7 linked regions of the Homo sapiens genome follow. The protein of the gene in region 4 interacts with the protein of the main gene of each other region in a pairwise test. Each region holds a gene or a part of one and is shown on either strand. Other genes may lie near its edges.

Evidence for each region.
Region 1: the proteins of POM121 (region 4) and TEX11 interact in binary tests that used the Homo sapiens proteins (3 or more experiments, as listed by UniProt).
Region 2: the proteins of POM121 (region 4) and MORN5 interact in binary tests that used the Homo sapiens proteins (3 or more experiments, as listed by UniProt).
Region 3: the proteins of POM121 (region 4) and KPNA6 interact in binary tests that used the Homo sapiens proteins (3 or more experiments, as listed by UniProt).
Region 5: the proteins of POM121 (region 4) and ZMYND12 interact in binary tests that used the Homo sapiens proteins (3 or more experiments, as listed by UniProt).
Region 6: the proteins of POM121 (region 4) and AP2B1 interact in binary tests that used the Homo sapiens proteins (3 or more experiments, as listed by UniProt).
Region 7: the proteins of POM121 (region 4) and FXR2 interact in binary tests that used the Homo sapiens proteins (3 or more experiments, as listed by UniProt).

Annotation. Positions count from the first base shown.
Region 1 is NC_000023.11:70,608,212-70,611,711, forward strand, and holds part of TEX11 (testis-expressed protein 11), read right to left. Parts: intron 2,333-3,500; coding exon 2,292-2,332; intron 967-2,291; coding exon 880-966; intron 1-879. UniProt on the Homo sapiens protein: Regulator of crossing-over during meiosis. Involved in initiation and/or maintenance of chromosome synapsis and formation of crossovers.
Region 2 is NC_000009.12:122,169,908-122,173,407, reverse strand, and holds part of MORN5 (MORN repeat-containing protein 5), read right to left. Parts: intron 1-3,500.
Region 3 is NC_000001.11:32,114,556-32,118,055, reverse strand, and holds part of KPNA6 (importin subunit alpha-7), read right to left. Parts: intron 1-3,500. UniProt on the Homo sapiens protein: Functions in nuclear protein import as an adapter protein for nuclear receptor KPNB1. Binds specifically and directly to substrates containing either a simple or bipartite NLS motif.
Region 4 is NC_000007.14:72,945,447-72,948,799, reverse strand, and holds the end of POM121 (nuclear envelope pore membrane protein POM 121), read right to left. Parts: intron 3,215-3,353; coding exon 3,092-3,214; intron 2,664-3,091; coding exon 2,566-2,663; 3' UTR 501-2,565; downstream 1-500. UniProt on the Homo sapiens protein: Essential component of the nuclear pore complex (NPC). The repeat-containing domain may be involved in anchoring components of the pore complex to the pore membrane. When overexpressed in cells induces the formation of cytoplasmic annulate lamellae (AL).
Region 5 is NC_000001.11:42,435,523-42,439,022, reverse strand, and holds part of ZMYND12 (zinc finger MYND domain-containing protein 12), read left to right. Parts: intron 1-2,479; coding exon 2,480-2,602; intron 2,603-3,500. UniProt on the Homo sapiens protein: Required for sperm flagellum function and male fertility.
Region 6 is NC_000017.11:35,593,822-35,597,321, reverse strand, and holds part of AP2B1 (AP-2 complex subunit beta), read right to left. Parts: intron 3,315-3,500; 5' UTR 3,292-3,314; coding exon 3,255-3,291; intron 790-3,254; exon of another isoform or gene 192-789; intron 1-191. UniProt on the Homo sapiens protein: Component of the adaptor protein complex 2 (AP-2). Adaptor protein complexes function in protein transport via transport vesicles in different membrane traffic pathways.
Region 7 is NC_000017.11:7,594,398-7,597,897, reverse strand, and holds part of FXR2 (RNA-binding protein FXR2), read left to right. Parts: intron 1-1,903; coding exon 1,904-2,074; intron 2,075-3,140; coding exon 3,141-3,219; intron 3,220-3,500. UniProt on the Homo sapiens protein: mRNA-binding protein that acts as a regulator of mRNAs translation and/or stability, and which is required for adult hippocampal neurogenesis. Specifically binds to AU-rich elements (AREs) in the 3'-UTR of target mRNAs.

The sequences.
Region 1 (3,500 bases), on a different chromosome or scaffold from region 4:
TACCAGAAACCCTGAAGCTCCTACAACTTTCAAGTCCAACTCCTTTTCCAGGGTAACCATTATCCTGACTTATAACACCATATATTAGTTTTGCCCATTTAAAAAATTATAAATAAAATGAACAACACAATATGTATTCTTCAATATCTAGCTTCTTTTGCTCAACATTATGTTTGTGAGATTCATCCATATTGTTGTATATAGTTCATTTTTGGTCAATCACACTCAGAAATAAATTAAGTATTCTAGGCCAGGCACGGTGGCTTACGCCTGTAATCCTAGCACTTTGGGAGGCCGAGGCAGGTGGATCACGAGGTCAGGAGATCGAGACCATCCTGGCTAACACGGTGAAACCCCATCTCTACTAAAAATACAAAAAATTAGCCGGGCGTGGTGGCGGGTGCCTGTAGTCCCAGCTACTAGGGAGGCTGAGGCAGGAGAATGGTGTGAACCCGGGAGGCGGAGCTGGCAGTGAGCTGAGATCAAGCCACTGCACTCCAGCCTGGGCGACAGAGCGAGACTCCATCTCAAAAAAAAAAAAAAAAAAATTAAGTATTCTAAACCAAGTTTAGGAGCACAACCTTGAGGACCTGTAGTTACAGTTCATTAGTTTCATCTTAGACCCATTTCTATAGAAAAGGGACACAACTAATGTCCATTGAGTATCTACTATGAAAAAAGTATATATGCTGTTTCATTTAAAACCCTTAATAACTGCATGAAGTATATATAACTATTTCCATTTTATAAGTAATAAAACAGATTAAGCAAGTTATCTCTGTACCCACAGCTACAAATGAAAGATCCAGAATTTGAAATCACATCTGTCTAATTCCACCACCCCACAATGTTTCCCAGAGCCACAGAATTTCCTCTTACCTGTTTTTCGAAACCACTGAGCTTCATTAGCTCTTGACTCCAAACTTAAGGCTTCTTCACCAAAAGGCTGAGAAAGTTTCACAAAGGCTGCATCAAACAGGAAAATTTGATACTGATGGTCTTATTTTATACTCTAGCAAAATTGTTTAATCCTGCTTTAAGAACAGTCTCACAGGAGTTTGAATTTAGAAAGTTCTTTTTTGTGTATGTGTGTAGGGGTGCATACCAAAAGTAATTAAAATGACAGAAAGCATTACCAAGTTCCAAGAAGTTGTTAACTCAAACTCTGGGGAACAAACATGTCTTTGGAGAGATTTATAATTTTAATTAGTGCAATCATTCACCACCTGAGGTAGAAAGATATGATTTACATGTGAGGAAATAAAAAATAGAAACAATCGTTTAAAAGACTGAACTGGAGATTGAAAATTAGAAGGGTATCAATATGCTGGCATAATATTTACTGAGCCAGCAAGCTCAGGACAGAACCAGAATGTGCTATCACTATCAGAAGGCATTCTCTTTCTGAGAAATAAGAATGCCAACCAGCAAAGTTTTTCTCTTTTGAAAAGAAGTGGTCTGGTTTCTAAACCACTTTGCTATGTTTAACACCCTGCTGACAGGTATTTGAGGTATAAAATTGAACTACTGCACTGAGCAGGATAGAATTTCTAAGATATGAACTTTTTGGTGTGTTTTGGACATAAGGAAAGAGGTACATGGACAGTAAAAATGGGAGATCTGTTAAAAGGGATGCCATGTAAAAAAGCATGTAGTTAGAAAAAAAATGTGATACAACTAGGAGATTAGCTTGAATAAAGTGGACAGGGAAAAATTATTAGTAGATAAGGGAGATGGCACAGACTTGGGTGGACAGCTTCAAAATAAGAGAATATGCAACCTGAATTTGATTCAGAGGGTATGAAAAAAACAGCAGGGTTCAGAGTATTTTTATTTGTCTTGATCTTTTTTCACCTGTTCAATTCTTAGGTTAGGATCAAGTGGCTACTAGAAAAGAAAGGTAGAGGGACAGGGAGGGAGAGAAGGGAGGAAGGGAGAGAAGGAAAGGAAAGGAGGGAGGGAAGGGGGAAGGAGAGAAAGAAGGAAGGAAGGAAGGAAGAGAGGGAGGGAGGGAGGGAGGGACGGGAGGGAGGGAGGGAAGGAAATGTCCTTAAAACAAATAGGAATTAAAACAGAACTGAAATCACATTTGGAGATGAATGCTAATGATGACACACTTTTCTCTGCTTGTGAATGAAGAAACCAAAATAGATTCCTGTGGCAAAGATTAATAAGGAGCATGAAGCTTAACTCAAACATAAGGTTAAAGTTGCTGTGCTTAGTGTACTTGGAGAATTCAACAGAGAATAGAGGCAAGATGAAGGACTGAATATAACCAGGGAGATATTTACCTCTATTCAGGCAAGTCAAAAGTCGATCCATTTCTTTCTTCCTAAAAATAAAGAAAAGGATATTTTCCAACTGCTCCAAATCTTTACTATAAAACATAACTAAAAAGGGACACTATTTGTGCCTGAGAATTGAACTAAGAAAATGCAAAATTGTGAAGTTTTTTGCTCAGGACTCCAATCTACCATTTCAACAATCTTCTTCCCCACTGTAGGATACAGTTACTCATTCCCAGTGCCCTCATATTTTTTCTCTCTTCTACTTCTTCATAAACTCTCAGCAAAGGATTTCAATGACAAGGTTTTATATTGTAGGGTCATAACACTTGAGAGCAGCTGGTGATCTCTGTGATTTATAAGCTTTTTTGAAGGGGGGAACTAGAACCCTTATTTCAAATAAAGTTGTATAAAAGTCTAATATACAAGAAAAGATAAAAGATAAAAGTTGAGCTGCTGTGGTTGAACGAGGAGTGGGTGGAGGCTTGGAGTTTCACCTTCCTGGAAGTCCCTGATGCAGTGCCACAAAATTTCCACGGTTCTAAGGAATGCAGCTTAAAAAATAACTTATCTTGTACAGACACATCATTTTACAGATGAAGAAAAGAGTAGACCCAGGTTTCCTGACCCCTCTGTCAAGCTTCTTTAAGCATATAAAATTTAAAAGAGAACTTCCGGTTTCTAGTTATGCATGTAAGGAGCTTGGAAGTTGCCAGTTTCTCCTAACAAGTAAAACGCTGAACACACTGAAAAATTAGTAACTCTTCTTGGACCTATAAGAGACGAGAGGAAAAAGGGAAAACCACTGCCACAAAAATTGGAGAGAAGGGCGAAGATAGGGAGTCATAGCTTACTAGAGCAGAGATTCAAAAGTGGAAACTACCATGGGAACCAATGCTGGAGTAGGAAAACCTGAAGCGTAACTGACAAACCACTGGAGGCTCAGTGTGGACAAGTCTGAATTAAAAGACTCAGGAGGACCCAGTCATAAGGAGGCCTCCACAGTTTTGTGAGTTTTGCCTCCAGGAGCTTGGTTAGCTACTCAGTGAATATTGGAGCAAAATCTCTTTATGCATCTTGCAGGGGGCAGAGGAAACAAAACACTTTAAAACATGCCAGAGCACCCTGTTCTTAACAAGTCTTGCCCTCAAGAGAAACTGCTTAACCACAGCCTGACCTTCTGGGGTATATCAGAGCCTAACTGATCTCGGAGAA
Region 2 (3,500 bases), on a different chromosome or scaffold from region 4:
AGCACTTACTCCATGTCAAGCACTTTACAGCCATTCTCTCACCAAAGCCTCATGCCAATGCCCATCTCACAGATGCTCGAAGAGGTCGCGGGGCACTTTTAACCCTCACCCTGCCTTGCAGGCAGGGCGAGTTGCCCTAACAATGCCAGCCCCAAGAGGCAAAGTGTGGAGTGACAAGGGAAGGAAGTAGCTACTTAGAATCAAGCTGCTCTTCTGAGGGTCACAGGAGAAGTAGGGGAGAGCCAGGCATGTTCGGGGAGAGCCAGGCAGGTTCGGGAAATGCCACCACGAGACTGGCAGAGGCTTAGCTTTAGCATAACCAGCCATTGTGTGAGAGCTAAGGCTTAAGGCTGAGGGCTTTTTGCCTACAGCCTTAATTGGGGTGAAGAGCCCATGGCAAAGTCCAGGCCTCCCATCATAACTAATTCGGGAGGAGTGATTTGCAAGGTTCTCAAGCTGCAGCTAGACTGGCAGCTCTTTGAAGGGAGAGATGATGTCCTCTTAACTCTGGTCTCCCTGGGTCCAGCCAGCGTCTGACATACAGTAGGAGCTTAGGAAATATTTCTTAATGTCATTGCCTTAACTCCCCTAAGCACATACTTCACCCTGCACTGTGATGTCAGTATCATTATCCCTGTTTGACAATAACTCTTTAACGAGTACCCACTGTATGCCAGACAATGTGCTAGGGCCCTGCCCTCATGTTGCTCACAGCTTGGGAAGACGAGCTGAACACTCACGATCCAAGCCCTGGGAGGAGGTCATGGCTGCTGTGATATGCCACAGGGAGACCTTACCTAGTGTGGGAATTCAGGGAAGGGGCTCCCAGCTTCAGGACGTTGAGCTGAGAACTGAAGTACGGGAAGGAGTTATTTGGGTGAAGTAAGAGGGTTAAAGTATTCCAGGCAGAGAGAATGGCAGGAAAAAGTGTGGTCTCTTTGAGAAACAGAAAGAAAGCAAGTATCGCAAGAGGGGAGAGAGAAAAACCGAGAAGGGTGGGTAGCCTAGGATGAGGCTGGGACATGAGCAGGAGCCAGAGAATGTCACTGTTTCTGAGAATTTGAAACCTTATCTTGAGGGTATAGGGAGCACTCAAGGGGCGGGGCGGGAGGGAGGCAATCAGATTCACACTTTAAAAGATGTAAGCGGCCGGGCATGGTGGCTCACGCCTGTAATCCCAAGTTAAGGAGGGAAGGTTGCTTGAGGCCAGGAGTTCTAGATGAGCCTGGGCAACATGGCAACACCCATCTCTACAAGAAACTTAAAAAAAAAAAAAAAATTAACCAGGAGTGGTGGCGCATTCCTGTAGTTCCAGCTACTTAGGAGGCCAGATCACTTGGCAGGAGGATCGCTTGAGCCCAGGAGTTCAAAGTTACAGTGAGCTATGATCATACCACTGCACTCCAGCCTGGGCAACAGAGCAAGACTCTGTCTCAAAAAAAAAAAAAAAAAAAAAAAAAAGATGGAAGTGACTGCAGAATGGAGAATGACCTCAAGGGCGCCAAGTGGGGATCTCCGGAGTCAGGTCATCAAGGGGAAAGATGATGGAGGGCTGGAACAGGGCAGTGGCAAAGAGTATGAAGAGAATGCTGCCTGGCACATGGAAGTGCTCAATAAATATTTGTTGAATAAACAAATAAAGTCTATATTTCAGAGGTAAAATCCATAGGACCATTGCACTTAGGGGGCAGGGGAAGGGAGGATTAGGCTTACCTAGGTGGATGGGCATGACATTCAGTGAGGCAGCCATCACGGTGGGGGTGACAATGAATTCAGTGCAAACAAGTTGAGAACGACCAATACAGGTGTCAGGGAAGCTTGATGCAGGGATCTTAGGCTCAGGGATTCTGATTTCAATTTAGAAGCTGATGGTAGTTGAAGGCTTAGAAGTGTATCAACTTGTTCAGGAAGAGCATATAGAATGAAAACAGAAAATGCCTAAGCCAGAGAGCCCCGGGAACCTCAACGTGAATAACTGGGGGTGGGGGGATGTTGAGGAGGCAGTGGCAAAGAAGCCTGGGGATAGGAGGAAAATAGCAGAGTAAGTGTCAGGAGGGCAAAGGGAGAGAAGGCGGCTCACCCGGTCAACTAACTGACCCAAGGTCATGAAGCTGGGAAGGGAAGGAGATGGGGGTTTGAGCTCAGGTCTGCCTGACTCCAGTGCCTGAGTGCTTCCTGGAGGCTTCTGCCCTGACGGAGGTTGACTTGTGCAGGCTCATCCTGCTATAGAGAGAGAATGCTAGGACTCAAACCCACAATTTCTGGCTCTATGCTCTGTCAACCACAGCTCATGGTCTCTCATAAGCTAAGTTGGGATTGTTTTTATAGTATACAGAGTTGTTTCCCCATCTGTCATTTTGGATATATTATCTCTGCTGTGCCAAAAACTACACTTTTCTTTTTTTATTTTTTTATTACTTATTTATTTTTTATTATACTTTAAGTTCTGGGGTACATGTGCAGAATGTGCAGGTTTGTTACATAGGTATACACGTGCCATGGTGGTTTGCTGCACCCATCAACCTGTCATCTACATTAGGTATTTCTCCTAATACTATCCCTCTCCTCCCCTCGTCTTGAGGCTCACCTGACCTGGAACACGTCTCAAAATTTTAAGGTGCCACTCTCTGAATCCAGACTTATAGTCCAAATGTAGCCCTCCATGATGAGACACGGTTTTTGCAGGGAGGTAGCATGATAAAGAGGACCTCAGAGAGGAAGACTGGGCTACCAGTGTGAGCTCTGCCACAGGGAACCATGTCTGAACTCCACAGCCTCAACCTGGAGTGACATGGGACTAGGAAGGCTGACTGGGCAGGGTCATCTGGACATTAGGGAGACAGGGATTACAGAGAGCCTCCCCCAGCACCTGATACACAAAGCACATGCTCTGTCAGTACTGCTTTCGTCCTTAACTCTTTCTTTTTAAAATATTTACATAATTTTAGTGTTATAGTAGGTACCACGAATAAGAACAGCTGACATGTACCGTGCACCCACATGCATTCAAGGCACTGTTCTAAACACCTGACATGAATTATCTTATTTACAACAATCTTGGGAGGTAGATGATGCTATTGACCCCATTTTGATTTTTTTTTTTTTTTTTCTGAGACCAGAGTGTCGCTCTGTCGCCCAGGCTGGAGTGCAGTGGTGTGATGTCAGCTCACTGCAAACTCCACCTCCTGAGTTCAAACGATTCTCATGCCTCAGCCTCCTGAGTAGCTGGGATTACAGGCATGCCACCACACCCGGCTAATTTTTGTATTTTTAGAAGAGACGGGGTTTCACCATGTTGGCCAGGATGGTCTGGAAGTCCTGACCTCAAGTGATCCACCCGCCTTGGCCTCCCAAAGTGCTGGGATTACAGGCATAGTCACCACGCCCAGCTGATTGACTCCATTTTGAAGGGGAGAAACTGAGGCGCAGTGGGTAAAGTCCCTTGCCCATGGTCCTCTGGCTAGCACAGTGGAGCTGAGATATGAGGACTGGCCTTCCTG
Region 3 (3,500 bases), on a different chromosome or scaffold from region 4:
AGTTACTCAGGAGGCTGAGGCAGGAGAATAGTTTGAACTGGGAGGCAGAGGTTGCGGTGAGCGGAGATTGTGCCACTGCACTCCAGCCTGGGCAACAAGAGCGAAACTCCATATCAAATTAAAAAAAAGAAAAGAAAAACAGGTGAGATTTCTATAGGAAAAGATGGGTGGGGAAGAGATTGCTTTAGCTACTTCAGGAATGCTTATGTACAAACAGCCCATATTTTGATTAGAATCATACTGAGTAAGCGTCTCTTCCATGTATTAGCTATGAATTTGCCCAAGTTACTGAAACCTCTCCATCCTTTGGTTTTCTCAACTAAAACATGAGAATCTGAGAATTAAATGAATATATAAAGTACAGGCATATCTCATTTTACTGTGATTCACCGATACTGTGTGTTTTTTTATTGTTGTTATTGTTTTTGTCTTGAGACAGGGTCTCACTATGTTGCCCAGGCTGGTCTCAAACTGCTGAGCTCAAGAGTTTCACCTGCCTTAGCCTCCCAAAGTGCTGGGATTATAGGCGTCAGCCAGCATACCCAGCCAATGTGTGTTTTTTTTAAAAAAAAAAAAACAAATTGGGCCGGGCGCAGTGGCTCACGCCTGTAATCCCAGCACTTTGGGAGGCCGAGGCGGGTGGATCACAAGGTCAGGAGTTCAAGACCAGCCTGGCCAAGATGGTAAAACCCCATCTCTACTAAAAATACAAAAAGTTAGCCGGGCGTGGTGGCAGGCGCCTGTAGTCCCAGCTACTCAGGAGGCTGACGAAGGAGAATCATTTGAACCCGGAGGGTGGAGGTTGCAGTGAGCCAAGATCGTGCCACTGCACTCCAGCCTGGGTGACAGAGTGAAACTCCGTCTCAAAAAAAAAAAACAAAAAAAAACAAATTGAAGGTTTGTGGCAATCCTATGTTAAGCAAGTCTACTGGTGCCATTTTTCCAGCAGCATGTGTTCACTTTGTGCCACATTTTGGTAATTCTCGTAATATTTCAAACTTTTGTTTTTTGTTTTATCTGTTATGGTGATCTGTGATCAGTGATATTTGATGCTAGTATTGCAACTGTTTTGGGGTGCCATGAGCCATGGTCATATAAGATGGAGAACTTAACTGATAAATACTGTGTATGATCTGACTGCTCCACCAACAAGCCATTCCACAGTCTCTCTCCCACCCTATTCCCTGAGATACAACAATATTGAAATGAGGCTAATTAATAACCCTACAATGGCCTCTATTTGTTCAAGTGAAAGGGGCAGTTGCATGTCTCCACATTAAGTCAAAAGCTAGAAATGATTAAGCTTAGTGAGGAAGGCATGTCAAAAAGCCAAGATATGGTGAAAGCTAAGCCTCTTGCGCCAGTTAGCAAAGCTGTGAATGCAAAGGAAAAGTTCTTTTTTTTTGTTGTGAAGGAGTTTCCAAGTCTGGAGTGTAATGGTGCGATCTCAGCTCACCGAAACCTCCACCTCCTGGGTTCAAGCGATTCTTCTGCCTCAGCCTCCCAAATAGCTAGAATTGCAGGCATGTGCCACCACACCCGGCTAATTTTGTATTTTTAGTAGAGACAGGGTTTCTCCATGTTAGTCAGGCTGATCTTGAACTCCTGACCTCAGGTGATCCGCCTGCCTGGGCCTCCCAAAGTGCTAGGATTACAGGCATGAGCCACTGCACCTGGCCAGGAAAAGATCTTGAAGGAAATGAAAAGTACTAGTCCAGTGAACACACAAATGTTTAAAAAAAACAACCGGCCGGGCGCTACTCAGGAGGCTGAGGCAGGAGAATGGCATGAACCCGGGAGGCGGAGCTTGCAGTGAGCCAAGATAGGGCCACTGCACTCCAGCCTCTGTCTCAAAAAAAAAAAAAAGAAAAGAAAAGAAAAAACAGCCTTATTGCCAATATGGATAAACTTTTAGTGGTTTTGACAGAAGATCAAATCAGCCACAATACTGCCTTAAACCAAAGCCTAATCCAGAGCCAGGCTCTAACGAGACTGGTTCATAAGGTTTAAGGAGCCGAGCGCAGTGGCTTATGCCTGTAATCCCAAGACTTTGGGAGGCTGAGGCAGGTGGATCACCTGAGGTCAGGAGTTCGAGACCAACTTGGCCAACATGGTGAAACCCCATCTCTACTAAAAATACAAAAATTAGCCAGATGTGGTGGCGGGCACCTGTTATCCTGGCTACCTGGGAGGCTGAGGCAGGAGAATCGCTTGAATCTGGGAGGAAGAGGTTGCAGTGAGCTGAGATCATGGCACTGCACTCCAGCCTGGGCGACAGTGAGACTCCGTCTCAAAAAGAAAGGGTTTAAGGAAAGAAGCCATCAATGTGGAGGCCAAACTCAGTGACTCATGCTTGTAATCCCAGTGGCTTTGGAGGCTGAGGAATAAGGATCACTTGAGGACAGGACTTGAAGACCAGCCTGGGCAACATGGTGACACACTGTCTCACAAAAATTTAAAATTGGCTGAGTGTGGTGGCACACACCTGTAGTCCCCAGCTACTTAGAAGGCTGACGTGGGGGGATCCCTTGAGCCCAGGAATTAGAGGTTGCAGTGTGCTATCTTGCCACTGCACCCCAGCCTGGGTGACAGACAAAAACCCTATCTTAAAAAAAAAAGTTGGGCACAGTGGCTCACGCCTTGTAATCCCAGCACTTTGGAAGGTTGAGATGGGCGGATCACGAGGTCAGGAGATCGAGACCATCCTGGCTAACATGGTGAAATCCCATCTCTACTAAAAATACAAAAAAAAATTAGCCGGGCGTGGTAGCGGGCGCCTGTGGTCCCAGCTACTCGGGAGGCTGAGGCAGGAGAATGGCGTGAACCCGGGAGGCCGAGCTTGTAGTGAGCTGAGGTCGCGCCACTGCATTCCAGCCTGGGCAACAGAGAGAAACTCCGTCTCAAAAAAAAAAGTGAAGCCGGGTGTGGTGGCTCATGCCTATAATCCCAGCACTTTGGGAGGCTGAGGTGGGCGGATCACTTGAGGTCAGGAGTTCGAGACCAGCCTGGCCAACACGGCGAAACACTGTCTCTATAAAAATACATAAATGTTCTGGGCGTGGTGGCACACACCTATAATCCCAGCTACTTAGGAGACTGAGGCACCATAATTACTTGAACCCGGGAGACAGAGGCTGCAGTGAGGCGAGATCGTGCCACTGCACTCCAGTCTGGGTGACAGAGTGAGACACTGTCTCAAAAAAGTGCAAGGTGAAGCAGCATGTGCTGATGCAGAAGCTACAGCAAGTTATCCAGAAGATCAAGCTAAGATCATTAATGAAAGTGGCTACACTAGCCAACAGATTTTCAATGTAGAAGAAACAGCTTTCCATTGGAGGAAGATGTCATCTAGGACTTTCATAGCTAGAGAGAAGTCAATGCCTGGCTTCAAAGCTTCAAATGACAGGCTGACTCTCTTGTTATGGGCTAATGCAGCTGGGGCCTTTAAGTTGAAGTCAATGCTCAATTACTATTCTGAAAATCTCAGAAGCTTAAAACGT
Region 4 (3,353 bases):
CGCCCTGCCTGCCCGGCCCCACCGAGGCCTGAGCACGTTCCCGGGTGCCGAGCACTGCCTCCGGGCTTCCCCCAAGACCACGCTTAGCGGTGGCTTCTTCGTTGCTGTAATTGAACGGGTCGAGATGCCGACGTGAGTGAGTGGGGGCATGCTTGGGAGGCGCAGGATGGTACTGGCACATCTAACATCTACATTTCTCTAGCTCAGCCTCACAGGCCAAAGCATCAGCACCAGAACGCACACCCAGCCCAGCCCCAAAGAGAAAGAAGAGAGCAAAAAGCTGCAGCCGGTGCTTGCACACCGCCTTGCACATAGCAGAGGCTCCGGGCTCACTCCTTCCTGGTGGGAAAGGAAGATGCCTGTCCTCTCCGTGGAAGACCCTGGGCCCTCACCGCAGGCAGCAGTTTGCGTTTTGAAAGGTTATTGGGTCCCTTCCTCGGGCTGTGTTCTTGCTGGTGAGCAAAAGTGTTGCCTGCAGAAATAAAATGCAGAACGTACTCTACGATAGATCACAGTTTTTTATTCTTAATGTCACAAGCAGGAGAAAAATCTCACATTCATACTAAAAATTCCAACTAGACTCAACAGGAATGAAGTCTCTATTTGTAATGGAAAGTCCCAGCCTCCCGCTGCCGTCCAGTGCGTGTACTGTACACATCCACACTCATTCTCACTCAGGGTTCCCGGACCGGCTGTCCTGCCTGCGGAACTGAGGTAAACTAGCTCAGGTACTGACACTAGGAGGGTCTACCTTACATAAGGTACAGGTAGAAGCTTGATTGCTAGGCCCAGGCCCACCCAGACCCTCCAATCCTAACAGGTATTTAGGCTTGAGGTTCACTCCCTCCTCAGCTGCACACGCAGCCAGGTATTAACGAGGATCAGAGCTGTTCTGAGGGGTGGGAAGGAGCAGCCCCGCCACCACTCACTCACCCTCAGTCACATCGGGGAGGGGGCACCAGTTACATTTACATCACATTATTTATAAAATAAGAATTACATTTCATATAACATGGCCAGAAGGAGCTCTAGTCCCCCAGGAAAGCTGCCGGGGACAGCATTTGAGCCTCTTCTTTGCACAGGCATAACTTAACTATACAGCTAATTCCTAGTTAATAGCATTTATACTTAACCACCTCAATGAACCAAGCTTGAAGGAATTTAAAAGGCAATTTAGCTTAAATACAAAAATAAATTTTTGTTAAAAAACGTTTAAATATTTTTTTCTTTTAATTTAGACACACGCATTCATACTTCTCCCAAAGAGGTTGGGCGTGGCAGCAAGGCGCTTGGGCCTGGGGTATGTGGTTTCAGAAGGACGGAAGGAAAGGATGGGCTGCAGAGGGCCCTGTTTGGGAAAAATAGGATTTTAAAAATATGGTTCATTAATTTAGGTTTTCTAACATCTACTTTGGGTGATGTAGCCTCCAGTGAGGTCAGTTAAGTGGGACAGAAACGGCAGAGGGAAGAGGTCTTTGCTTCCCCTGGGCCCATTCTCCCTGGCTGCCAGCCCTTGAAGTCAGAACACCATGGGAAAATTCAGGAGTCGGCACTTGTAGCCGTCAAGTGGTGCTACTTTCCACATTCAATTAGCGAGGCCCCAGAAAACTTGAAACAGGAAGTCCGGCACTACCAACATGCCGCCACTCATACAACTCAACTCTTCCTCCAAACTCGATTCAAAGAGCAATACACAGAGCATCAGACAAAGGAACACAGGACAAGGCTTGAAACATACAATCCTGGAGAGGCAGACGAGGGCCCAATGGGGCCAAAGGGTAGCTGGGCGAGGAGGCAGCTGAAGCAGCGGTGGGCATCCTGCCTGCTCCAAGAGCTTCTCCCTTCACCCCTGGCTCTGCCAGGCTAACAGTCTTGAGCCACCAAGCTCTGAGGGGCCAAACTGGCAGAGGGTTGGAGATGAAACATTGATTCAGGCTTGGCAGGAAGAAAACGGCAGGAGCAGCACCCACTGGGGTCTCCAAGGCAAAGCTAGATTCAAGGGCATTTAAAAACGAAGGAATCCTGCAAGGAACTGGTGAGGGACACAGCAGCAAGAAATGGGGAAACAGAGTCCCCAGAAGGGACCAGAGGAAGAGAACCACTTCTCACAGCTAAGCCAAGCAAGATAAAGCTTTACGGATAGCCCATTTCCCAAATCCCATCAGGTGCACACCACCGATCCAGGCGGGCTGGACCCTGCCCCCTCCAGCGACGACGGTCTCGGGGAAAGGTGGAAGGGGCGCCTGCCTAAGGGTGTGCTAAGCGGGAGTCAGGGCAGCGGACACTATGTACAGGTGTTTCCTTAGTTCTCCAGCCTCCCCAGTAGAACTGTTCAAGTAGAGGTCCCGGGCTTTGGCCCTCCGCATCCTGCTTCCCCTTCCCTGAGGCTTGTGCTTCCTCCAGAAGGGAAAGGGCCCCAGGGCTGCCACTGCCCCCTGGCGGCTGAAGCCAGAGATCCGGGGTAGGTTTGCTTTACGCAACTGGAAGGGTCCAAGGCTCTTCCTAGCAGGTGCCAAGGTCCAGATTTAGGGAAGGGGTGGGGGGAACAGGGACAGGGGACAAAGGCTACTTTTTGCGGGTGTGCTGCCTTCGGGCCTGCAGTCGCTGTCGAGCCCCTGGGGTCTTGGATCCCGCACCAATGGAAAATGAAAGGGCCGCCGATCCTGGAAAGATTCAACAAGACCTCATCAGGGCAGCTGCTACCTGAGACTCTGACTCTGGGTGCCCAAATCTCTGGAAGGCCAGGCCAGTAATAAAACACAGGGTGCCTCAATAGGGCTTTCCCCGCTGCATCAGAAACACTGTACGGGAGAAGCCTCCTGAAATGCAAACTCCCAGAGAGTCTCAGAGCGAGGCCCAAGAATCCATTTTTACCTGGCTTCCCATGGGAGGCAAACTTCCACCCCGGACAGCTCCTCTCTGATCTCTGCCATCCAACTCCCATCCCTGGGTTGTGCTGGACTCCTAACCCGAAATGTCTTTCCTGTGCTGAACCTGATCTTCACCGGGCCTCAGAGGACCAGGAACCTGCCACCCCGCCCAACCCCTCCTCAGACAGATGAGCAGGGCCACAGGGTGGCTTGCTGCTTACCGAAAGGTGCAACACCAACAAAGCCTTGGGCGGGTGCTGAGGATGCCCCAAAGGAGAGGCTGCTGCCTGATGTGCCCACTCCAGGCGCAGGGGTGTTCAGACCAAAGGTGGGGGTGGCGGTGCCTGGAATGAAGAGAACAGAGAGCTGGCCAGTGAGCAGAGGGCAGAGGCAAGCGAGGAGCCGGGCAGGAGCCTGTGCTCCGCAGGGCACTTCCCACGGGACCCTCAGCCCCACTTCTGCTTCTGGGGCACTCCTCCATCA
Region 5 (3,500 bases), on a different chromosome or scaffold from region 4:
TAAGAAAGCACTTATCGATGATAAAACTCTGTACAAAGTTAGATGGGATGTTGAGGATGATAACTGAATTGTTCTTTCAAAATTTAAGGGGTTTCTATTAGGATTTCAGTACTGGAAAATATTACCAGAGAAAAGAGTTCCTGGGCGTGAAATCTGAGTTAGCGTAGAGTCAGACTGCAGTCTCCATGCAGGTTGGTTCTCTCTTCAGCCTCTCTTCTGGCCTCTGCACCAAGCAGCCCTTCCTCTGGTTGCCCGCCTGTACAATGCCCGTAAATTAAATTTTACGCTGGTTATTCTTTAAATTCCACTAACCCATATCCATTCTCTGCCCTACTCTATGCCCTGGGAGCCTGACCTCTATGGACTACACAACCTCTATGGACTCCATTGCTCTCTGGCCTTGGTTGGGTTTGGAGAGTGGAAGGCATAGTAGGGGAGTGGAGAGTAGGAGGAGAAAAAGGCTGGGGTACTGATTCTCTCTGCTGCCTCTCTGCCCCACCCCTGATCTGTCAGGAACAGTGTTCCTCTGTGGCCACAGCTCCTGTCAGGCAGCCTTCTTCCATAGTGCTAGCTCTTGCTGGGCCCTGGTAACCTTGTTTCCTCCCCTTGCTGTTTCAGGTGTAGGGATGGTAATAGTTTCTTGCTGTTGGTAGTCCCTGGTGTTTCACTAGGCTTTGTTGGTTTTACTCGTAGGGCTTTTCCCTAGCCCTTGTTGGTTTCTTAACCCTTCTACATGTCAAGTAATAATTCCACTAAACTATCTTCAGGCAATCTTATTGAGGGTGCCATCTAGTTCCACCTGGGCTCCTGACTAATACAATTCTTTGTGTTTCCTCTCTATACTCTACATCCTCCAACAAATTAAGCAGAGGCACATTCTGTCCTGAGCTGGGCCACACAGTTAAGAATTAGTAGGCCAGGTGTGGTGGCTCACGCCTGTAATCCCAGCACTTTGGGAGGCTGAGGCAGGCAGATCATGAGGTCAGGAGTTCGAGACCAGCCTGACCAATATGGTGAAACCCCGTCTCTATGAAAAATACAAAAATTAGCTGGGCGCAGTGGCTCACGCCTGTAATCCCAGCACTCTGGGAGGCCGAGATGGGCGGATCACCAGAGGTCAGGAGTTCTAGATCAGCCTGACTAACATGGTGAAACCCCGTCTAAATATACAAAATTAGCTGGGTGTGGTGGCATGTGCCTGTAATTCCAGCTACTTGGGAGGCTGAGGCAGGAGAATTGCTTGAACCTGGGAGGCAGAGGTTGCAGTGAGCCAGGATTGCGCCACTGCACTCCAGCCTGGGCGACAGAGTGAGACTCAGTCTCCAAAAAAAAAAATATGAAAATTAGCCAGGTGTGGTGGTGTGTGCCTGTCATGCCAGCCGCTCGGAAGGCTGAGGCAAAAGAATCACTTGAACCCGGGAGGCGAGGTTGCAGTGAGCCAAGATCGCACCACTGCACTCCAGCCTGGGCGACAGAGGGAGACTCTGTCTTTAAAAAAAAAAAAAATTAGCACAAGCTCAGATTCCTTAGCCTAGCTTTTTAAACACACACACACACACACACACACACACACACACACACAGAGCTTTATTGATATATACCATAAAATTCACCCATTTTACGTGTACAATTAAATTATTTTTAGCAAATTTACAGAGTAGCGCAACCATTAGCACAATCAAGTTTCAGAACATTTCCATTACCCCAAAGAGATCCCTTGTATCCATGCGCAGTCATTTCCCATTCCTGTTCCAGCCCCAGCAACCACTTCCTGTTTCTACAAATTTGCCTTCTCAGGACAGTTCATACAGACAGCATCATGTGTGGTCCTTTGCATCTGACCTCTTTCACCTAGGGTGATTATTTTGAGATTCATCCATGTTGTTGCATGTATCAACAGTTCATTCCTCTTATTGCTGATTAGCATTCCATTGCCTGGATATACTACAATTTGTCTATCCATTTATCAGTTGATGGACATTTTGGTTGTTTCTATGTTTTGTGTATTTTAAATAATGCTGATATAAACATTTACGTACAAGTCTTTGTGGGTAGGTACTTAGAAGAGGAATTTCTGGGTCATGTAGTAACTCTATGTTTAACTTTTTAAGGAACTACCAAACTGTTTCCACAGAGGCTGCACCCTTTTACATTCCCATTGGCAATGTGTGAGGGTTTCATTTTCTCCATATCCTTCCCAACACTTTTTATTTTCTGTATTTGATTCTAGCCATCCTAGATGCAGTGATATTTCATTATAGCTTTGTTTTGCATTTACCTAATTACTATGTTAGTATCTATACATGTGCTTATTATTCATCTGAATATCTTTTTGGAGAAATGTCAATTCAGATCTTTTGCCCATTTTTAAATTGGAATGTTGTAACAGTTTTTTGTATGTATTCTAGATACAAGTCCTTTATCAGATATATGATTTGCAAAAGGAACTCAAGCACTCTCCTTCTTCCTTCTGCTATAGATTTATTTTGCCAGTTGTGCATTTGGAACAGAGGACATTAGGACTTCAGGAGGCTACTTCCACCTGGCTAATATATTCTATGACCTTAAAAAGTTGGACCTGGCAGACACATTGTACACCAAGGTGAGCTGGGGAATGTGGGAGCTGAGCCTTCACTCTTAGGCTTGGTGTCTTACAACTTGTATTAGACTATTCATGAAAAACATACCATTCATGAGAAAGAGAGGCACAGAGAGATGAAGTGGCTTGCCCAAGACTATATAGCCTGATACATGATATACTCCATTTTCTTTCTTCCAGTGTCTCCACTACCAAAATAGACTAACCCTTAACATCCGTAGGGTGATTAACGAATAATGAAGGACAGGTCAGTAAGAGCCAAACCCCTTCAGATAGACTGTTGTATGCTGTGTCATACCCATAGCAGCAAGCTAATGTGGGCTTATTGAAGTGTGCGATAGAGAAGGAGATTTCCAAGGGAAGTCTGTTGCTACAAGATCCTGTCAAGGGATCCAAGAACATGAGAAATTTCCATATTTACATGTAAAATATTTTAAACTGTTTCCAATATATTAAAATGTCAGCTGTATCCATATAGTAACACCTCACTTAGCAGGCAATCATTTGTGTAATAAATGTGTAATACAGGCTTTCTGCTGATTGTTGATTCATGTTTTAGACCTGCTTCTGAGAAAGAGGCATTTTGCTGTAGTTTAAAAGCTTTAGAATCAGATAGACCAGGGTTTAAATTCTGGCTATGCCACTTAACAGCTCTTACCAGAAGTCGTGTGTGATCTTCTCTGAGCCTCGGTTTATTTACATGTAAAATGGGAATAATAAGAATATTACATCAGGATGTTGTGAGGATGTGAAGGTTTCGTGTTGTGTGTGCTATACAAAAGATAACCACTGTTATTAGACCCCACTAGGGCTACCCCAAGATGAGCTGCCACAGGCCCTTTTCAGCCCATCACTTGTCACACTTACCTTGGCCAGGCCTGTTTGGGCTCCTAGGGTTCCC
Region 6 (3,500 bases), on a different chromosome or scaffold from region 4:
TTGTTTAAAAGAAACGGAAAAAAAACACTAAGTCCATGAAAAAGAGGTTGACTACTCCCATCTCAACTTTCCATCTACATCCTCCAGCTCATCTACCATACTGCCTCAAAAGACTTTCCTCCACCTTCAAGACTGTTCCTGTCGTTCCTTTCAACCAGATCTCATTTACCAGCATAGAAACAGTGGGGACAGTCTCCGCTTCCGGAGGTCGCTACTGCTGCCTCAGTGGCCCCGGAGCGGGGGCGCCCAGGGGTCCTTCGCCCCCGGCCACGGCCCCCACAACGGGGCTTCGCCGCCACCTGTGTCCGAGCTGGACCGTGCAGGCGCCAGGCTCCTCTCCGAAAGGCGCACGAGACAGCTTTCTTCTCCTGGTTCCACAATGGCCTCCTGGCATAGGGCATCGGGGTTATCTCCTTCATGCAGAGTGACATGGATCACGAAGCAGCATATGGCTTCTTCCTGCTGGGCGGCCTGTGTGCGGTGTGGGGCAGCGCCTGCGGGGCCTGGCAGCGCTGCGGGGGCCCATGCAGCTGACGCTAGGGGGCGCAGCTGCGGGCGCTGTACTCGCCACCAGCCCGCTCTGGGTGTGCGCCGCCGTGGGCTTCTACACCGGGCAGCTGGAGCTGGACGTGAAGCTGGTGCTCGAGGGCGACGGGGCGGCCTCCGCGGAAGGCCCTGATGAGGCAGGCTGGCCGCCACCCGAGTGAGCGACATGGCCGCCGGGCCTGGCAGGCGCGGGATGACGGCGCCCGAGGACTGGGACATTAAAACCTGACCTCCCCTCCTCCAAAAAAAAAAAAAAGAAAGAAATAGTGGGGACAAACACTACGTGATTTGCCTGAAACCATTATGTGGAAAGGATGAAATTAGTAAGACACAGAAGTAGAGCACTTTTTCGTTTCAATATCCATGGCCAATAAGGCAAAAAAATTGTTCCAAAATTTCTATTTAATCAACAGCTACAAAAGTAGCATAGCAAGAAAAGCTGGGCCCTTTAAAGAGTCATTCTTCATAGGACTCTTCACCATGTCCCATCCTGCCAAATCCAGCTCTTAGAGTTCCTCTCATTCACTTCCGGGAACAGTGAAGGACAAACGGCGGGGTTTCAGAAAGTCTGAATTGTGAACAGCAGCAGGTGTTATAGAATCAAAGCAGGATGTAACAGAAATTATTCCAATTCCAAAAGCATAAATTTAAAGAATATGTTTCAGTGGCAGTTCTGGTGGGTGTTGCAGGAAGTACAGGGAACACAATCTATCAATTTTTTTTAAGTATGATGTTTATTAGCAGTGATTCAATCTGCAGTCTCAAACTTTTACAAATGCCTGAATTAAAAAAAGGTCACCAGGACACTTTTCAAGAGTAGGTTTGAAGAATTAGGAGAGTTTTAAAATTATAACTATTTAATTGTAATTGTATCCCTTTATATAATTATAGACATTTTGTTCGTCAAAGCACACAAAATGCTAACAGAAGAAGAAATAAACATATTTCCAAAAGAAAATCAGAAAAAGCTGAGACTGAATGACAAGTGGCTAATGGCTTTTGTGAGGTGTAAGTAATAAAAATAAGGAGGAAAAAGTTGGGCAGGACCAAAGAGGGGTACTAAAAGAGGCAAAGTCATATATTCTACAACTTTATTAAATTCCTATATTTTCTCCCTCCTCCTCCCCCCAATCAAATCTACCAAGCACTGTTAGCAGCTAGCAGTAGTTCTCAATCATGGCTGCACATTAAAATAATCTGGGGAGCTTTCTTTTTAATTTTTTTCTTTTGAGACAGGGTCTCTCTCTGTTGCCTAGGCTGGGGTACAGCGGCACAATCACGACTCACTGCAGCCTCAACCTCCTGCACTCAAGTGATCCTCCCACCTCAGCCTCCCAAATAGCTGGGACTACAGGTGTGCACCACCGTACAGGGCTAATTTTTAAATTTTTTTTCATAGAGATAGGGTCTTACCATGTTGCCCAGGCTGGTCTCAAACTCCTGCACTCAAACAATCCTCCTGTCTCAGCCTCCCAATGTGCTGGGATTACAGGCATAAGCCACCATGCCTGGCCACCTGGAGAACCTTTAAAATCCTCACACCCAGACCATATCCAGGACAACTGAAATCAGGCTGAGGTTGAGACCCAGGCATCAGTATTATTTCAAAGTTCCCTGGCTGAGCAATTCTGATGTGTTGCCAAGACTGAAAGCTACAGACAACAAACTGACATAATTAAGCAACTCACTGCAACAAGAGAAAAAGAAGAATGGTAGTTGGCGCCATGTCTGGAATACTTTGGTAAATGTAAGGACTCCTGAACACAAAAGCACAGAATTCTGATCCTAAGCAACAAATAAAGCAAGCTAAGCTACAGGCACAATAAGCTGAGATGGGCTAAAATGTTTGTCTTTGATGGGAAGACCCTCCACATTTCTAGAAATGATCTATTTTATTTAGGAACAATTTTACAAAAGATGAAGGGTTGGACTTTCCCCAGAAGAATCCTTTGTTCCTAGACCCAAACTCATAGGTAAAAACAAGCATTATATTACTGATAACAAAGATGATGAGAGTAATAAGTGCAAAGTCCCTCAAGTAATTCCGTCTATGACCTAAAAACCATAGATGGCTCTAGAGATTCCGTTTTAAATATACATCTAGACGAAGAACATGGTAGATGTATATGGACGGATATGAAAATAACTCATTTCTATTCATTGTTTTGCAAGATTGCTTTTTCATTAAAGATAAAAAAATTTTAAATCATATGTATTAATATATGCACTCATATGCAGAGAAAAAGACTTGAGGATATACACCAAGTTCCCTTGGGAATAGGAACAGGAAGGGAGAACTTTCATTTTTACCTTTTACATACATATCTGTATTGCTTTAATTGTATTCTTTGTTATAAAATGTTTATTTCCAAGTAAAAATTATTTAATAAAAGGGAAAAAGTATGCTGCTTCTTTTGTCCTCCTCACACTTAACCAATCTCCAATGGATCATCTCAAACAGCAAAGAGGAGTCTCTTTCACTAAACAGAACCTTCAAGTCATAATAATGTGCATCACAGCCCTCTCTTTTAAAACCTACTCTTTAATAACTTGCTTGAATACATTCATCTATAGAAGTAGTAGATGTCCAGTGAGATTGTCAGCTACATGTATGTCTGAAGGAAGAGGTCAGCAGCATTCTGCCTGGGGCAATCTTACACTACAACTTTTGAAAATTTCAAAAGATTTGATTGTATTCTCATACTTACCTTTTTTATTGGTTGTGAAATACTTGGAGTCAGTCATGACTTTGGATCTTTAATGTGCACCTATAGCAAGAGAAAAGAATTCCTTCATTCAGGTTATAGATATCCAACAAGGCATCCAATTAATTTTAAGAACATCCAATTAATTTTAGGAACACTTATATTTAAGAATTTCTAAAAATGAGTATCATCTTCCTTTATCACCACCGTTGATGGTTCAAGAAAAACTAAGAATGTAACTCCTCAAGC
Region 7 (3,500 bases), on a different chromosome or scaffold from region 4:
TTTTGTGTGCTGATGAGTTGATTCATGGCTAGCCCCTCTAGGTGGCTTCATGATTAGAGGGTTGGAACTTTCAGCCTCACCCCCACCAACTTCCTGGGAGGGGAATGGGGCCAAAGGTTAAGGCAATCACTGAGGATCAGTGATTTAATCAGTCATGCCTAGTAGTGAAGCCTCTAAAAACCGGAAAGGGGCCGGGTGCAGCGGCTCACGCCTGCAATCCCAGCACTTTGGGAAGCCGAGGCAGGTGGATTGCCTGAGGTTAGGAGTTTGAGACCAGTCTGGCCAGCATGGTGAAACCCCTTCTCTACTAAAAATACAAAAAAAGGGAGGCAGAAGTTGCAGTGAGCAGAGATCATGCCACTGCACTCTAGCCTGGGTGACAGACCCCATCTCAAAAAAAAGAAAAAAAAAAAAGAAAACCCAGCTGTTCTGCAAGCTTATCTAGAAGACGCTTATAGGTCATTGTAGATCTCTTCCCCTCCCCTCCTAATGTAGTGATTTTGAACACTCAACTTAGTTTATTTTTCCAACTTTCTCTTCTTGCCTGGTATAAATCCTTGGTATAATTCAGTCCTATCCAACTTGGAAGTGGGAAGTAGTGTATTTCAATCTAGGAATGTCTCCTTTCAGGTATTGTTTCTATTTGGTGCTTACAACATGGGATTCACTCCTCTAAAACCTTTCCTGTCTTCCTGCCCCTGAACCCAGGGGTTCCTCTAAGGACTGATTGAGAAATGAAGTGAAAGCCTGGTGTTCTAGAGGCATGTTTTCTGTTTTTCTTAACCCCTCACTTTTTTTTGAGACAGAGTTTTGCTCTGTCACCAGGCTGGAGTGCAGTGGCATGACCTCGGCTCACTGTAACCTCCAACTCCCTGGTTCAAGCAATTCTCCTGCCTCAGCCTCCCAAGCAGCTGGGATTATAGGCACACCCCACCAAGGCCAGCTAATTTTTGTATTTTTAATAGAGATGGGGTTTCACTATGTTGGCAGGATGGTCTTGATCTCCTGACCTTGTGATCCACCTGCCTCAGCCTCCCACAGTGCTGGAATTACAGGCGTGAGCCACCGCGCACAGCCTACCCCTCACTTTTTACTTAAGTTGTTGAGTTTTATTTGGGGATGAGTTGATATTTGTTTGATTAAGGTAAGAGTTCCTTACACTTGCATGTACCTTGTGAGAAGTACTTTCACACCAGCCTTGTCTAATCCTCTTGCTAGTCTTGAGAATAAGATAAGTTGGATATAATCACTTAGCAGATGACACAAGAGGCAGAGTATGTTTTGTTTAAGATCACACAGATAGATACTCTTAGGGACAGATACTGTTAGGGCCAAATCCAGAACTTCGGTGTGTCCCAGTCCAAACTCTGCCCTCTTTACCTTTCCTCCCCCACAAACCACTGGTATTTGGAAGGAGTGGAATTAAAAGTTCCTGACCTTGGCCGGGCGTGGTGGCTTATGCCGGTAATCCCAGCACTTTGGGAGGCTGAGGCGGGCGGATCACCTGAGGTCAGGAGTTTGAGACCAGCCTGGCCAACATGGTGAAACCTTGTCTCTACTAAAAATACAGAAATTAGCCAGGCATGGTGGTGGACACCTGTAGTCGTAGCTACTCAGGAGGCCGAGGCATGAGAATCACTTGAAGTCGAGAGGCGGAGGTTGCAGTGAGCTGAGATCGCGCCACTGCACTCCAGCCTGGGCGACAGAGCGAGACGCCATCTCAAAGAAAAAACAAAAAGTTCCTGACCTTTCCACACAGGTCCTCGTGGTCCGCGGACTCCAGAGTGGTTCTAGCTTTCTATTAATATCACACAGTTTTCCTTATTTAAGTTATGCAAAGGGTCGTGTGCCTGGGACTGTGAGATTCTACCACCATGATTCCTACAGTGACTTTTCCTTTCAGACAAGCAAGCAGTTGGCAGCAGCCTTCCAAGAGGAGTTCACAGTGCGAGAGGACCTGATGGGACTGGCAATTGGGACTCACGGTGCCAACATCCAGCAGGCCCGAAAAGTACCTGGGGTGACCGCCATTGAGTTGGGTGAAGAGACCTGCACTTTCCGCATCTATGGGGAGGTCAGCAAAGGATGTCTTTCTTCTGGGTCTCTTAGGGGATAGAGGGAAGAGAGGCCGAAGTAGAAAATAAGCCTCAAACTGGGCACAGTGGCTCACACCTGTAATCCCAGCACCTTCGGAGGTCAAAGTGAGAGGATCACTTGAGCCTAGGAGTTTGAGACCAGCCTGTGCAACATAGTGAGACCCAATCTCTACAAAAATTTAAAAATTAGCTGGAAGTAGTGGTGCGTACCTGTAGTCGCAGGTACTTGGGAGGCTGAAATGGGAAGATAGAGGGGAGGATCACTTGAGCCTGGGAGTTGGAGAACAACCTGGACAACATAGAGAGACCCTGTCTTTACCCCCCAAAAAAACCAAAAACCAAAAAACGTTAACTGAGCGTGGTGGCATGCATCTGTGGCCCCAGCTACTTGGCTACTTGGGAGGCGGAGGCAGGAGGATCACTTGAGCCTGGAAAGTCAAGGCTGCAGTACACCATGATGGTGCCACTGAACCAACCTGGGCAACATAGTCAATAGAGTGAGACCAAAAAATCAAAAAAATAGACCAGATCTCTGTTGCCCAAGCTGGTTGTTAACTCCTAGCCTCAAGCAATCCTCCCTTCTTAGCCTCCGAAACTGTTGAGATTATGGGTGTGAGCCGCTGTGCCTGGCCAAGGTCCTCTGTTTTTTTTTTTAAGTTATTTATTTGTTTAATTTTTTTTTTTTATGAGATGGAGTCTAACTCACTCTGTTGCCCGGGCTAGAGTGCAGTGGCACAATCTCAGCTTATTGCAACCTCTGCCTCCTGGGTTCAAGAAATCTCCTGCCTCAGCCTCCGGAGTAGCTGGGATTAGAGACGTGAGCCACCAATTTTGTATTTTTAGTATTTTAGTATTTTTGTATTTTGATTTTTGTATTTTTAGTAGAGATGGCGTTTCACCATATTGCCCAGGCTAGTCTTGAACTCTTGAGCTCAATTTATCCACCTGCCTCCAGCCTCCCAAAGTGCTGGGATTACAGGCGTGAGCCACCACATCCAGCTGGTCTTCTGTTTTAGTAACAACTCCCTGCTGTTCTTCCTTTAGACTCCCGAGGCTTGCCGACAGGCCCGAAGCTACCTTGAGTTTTCTGAGGACTCAGTGCAAGTGCCCAGGAACCTGGTTGGTGAGTTGGTGGTGTGTATATACAGTTAGAGGTCAGAATCAAGATTCTCTACAGTGATTCTGAGCTTTTATCCAGGATTGGCACCTCCCTGTGGACTCCCAGTTTCACAAGGACAGAGAAACAGTCTGTAATGGGAGTGATAAAAATGAAAGAATAAATTTCTAGGGATTGTAACATTTTGTCCTGTAAAAACACATCAGAAACCTAGAAGCAGGAGAATGAAGTAAATGGAATCCATATAAAGAAAATGAGGCTGGAAGACGGTGTATCAGCTTTATTCT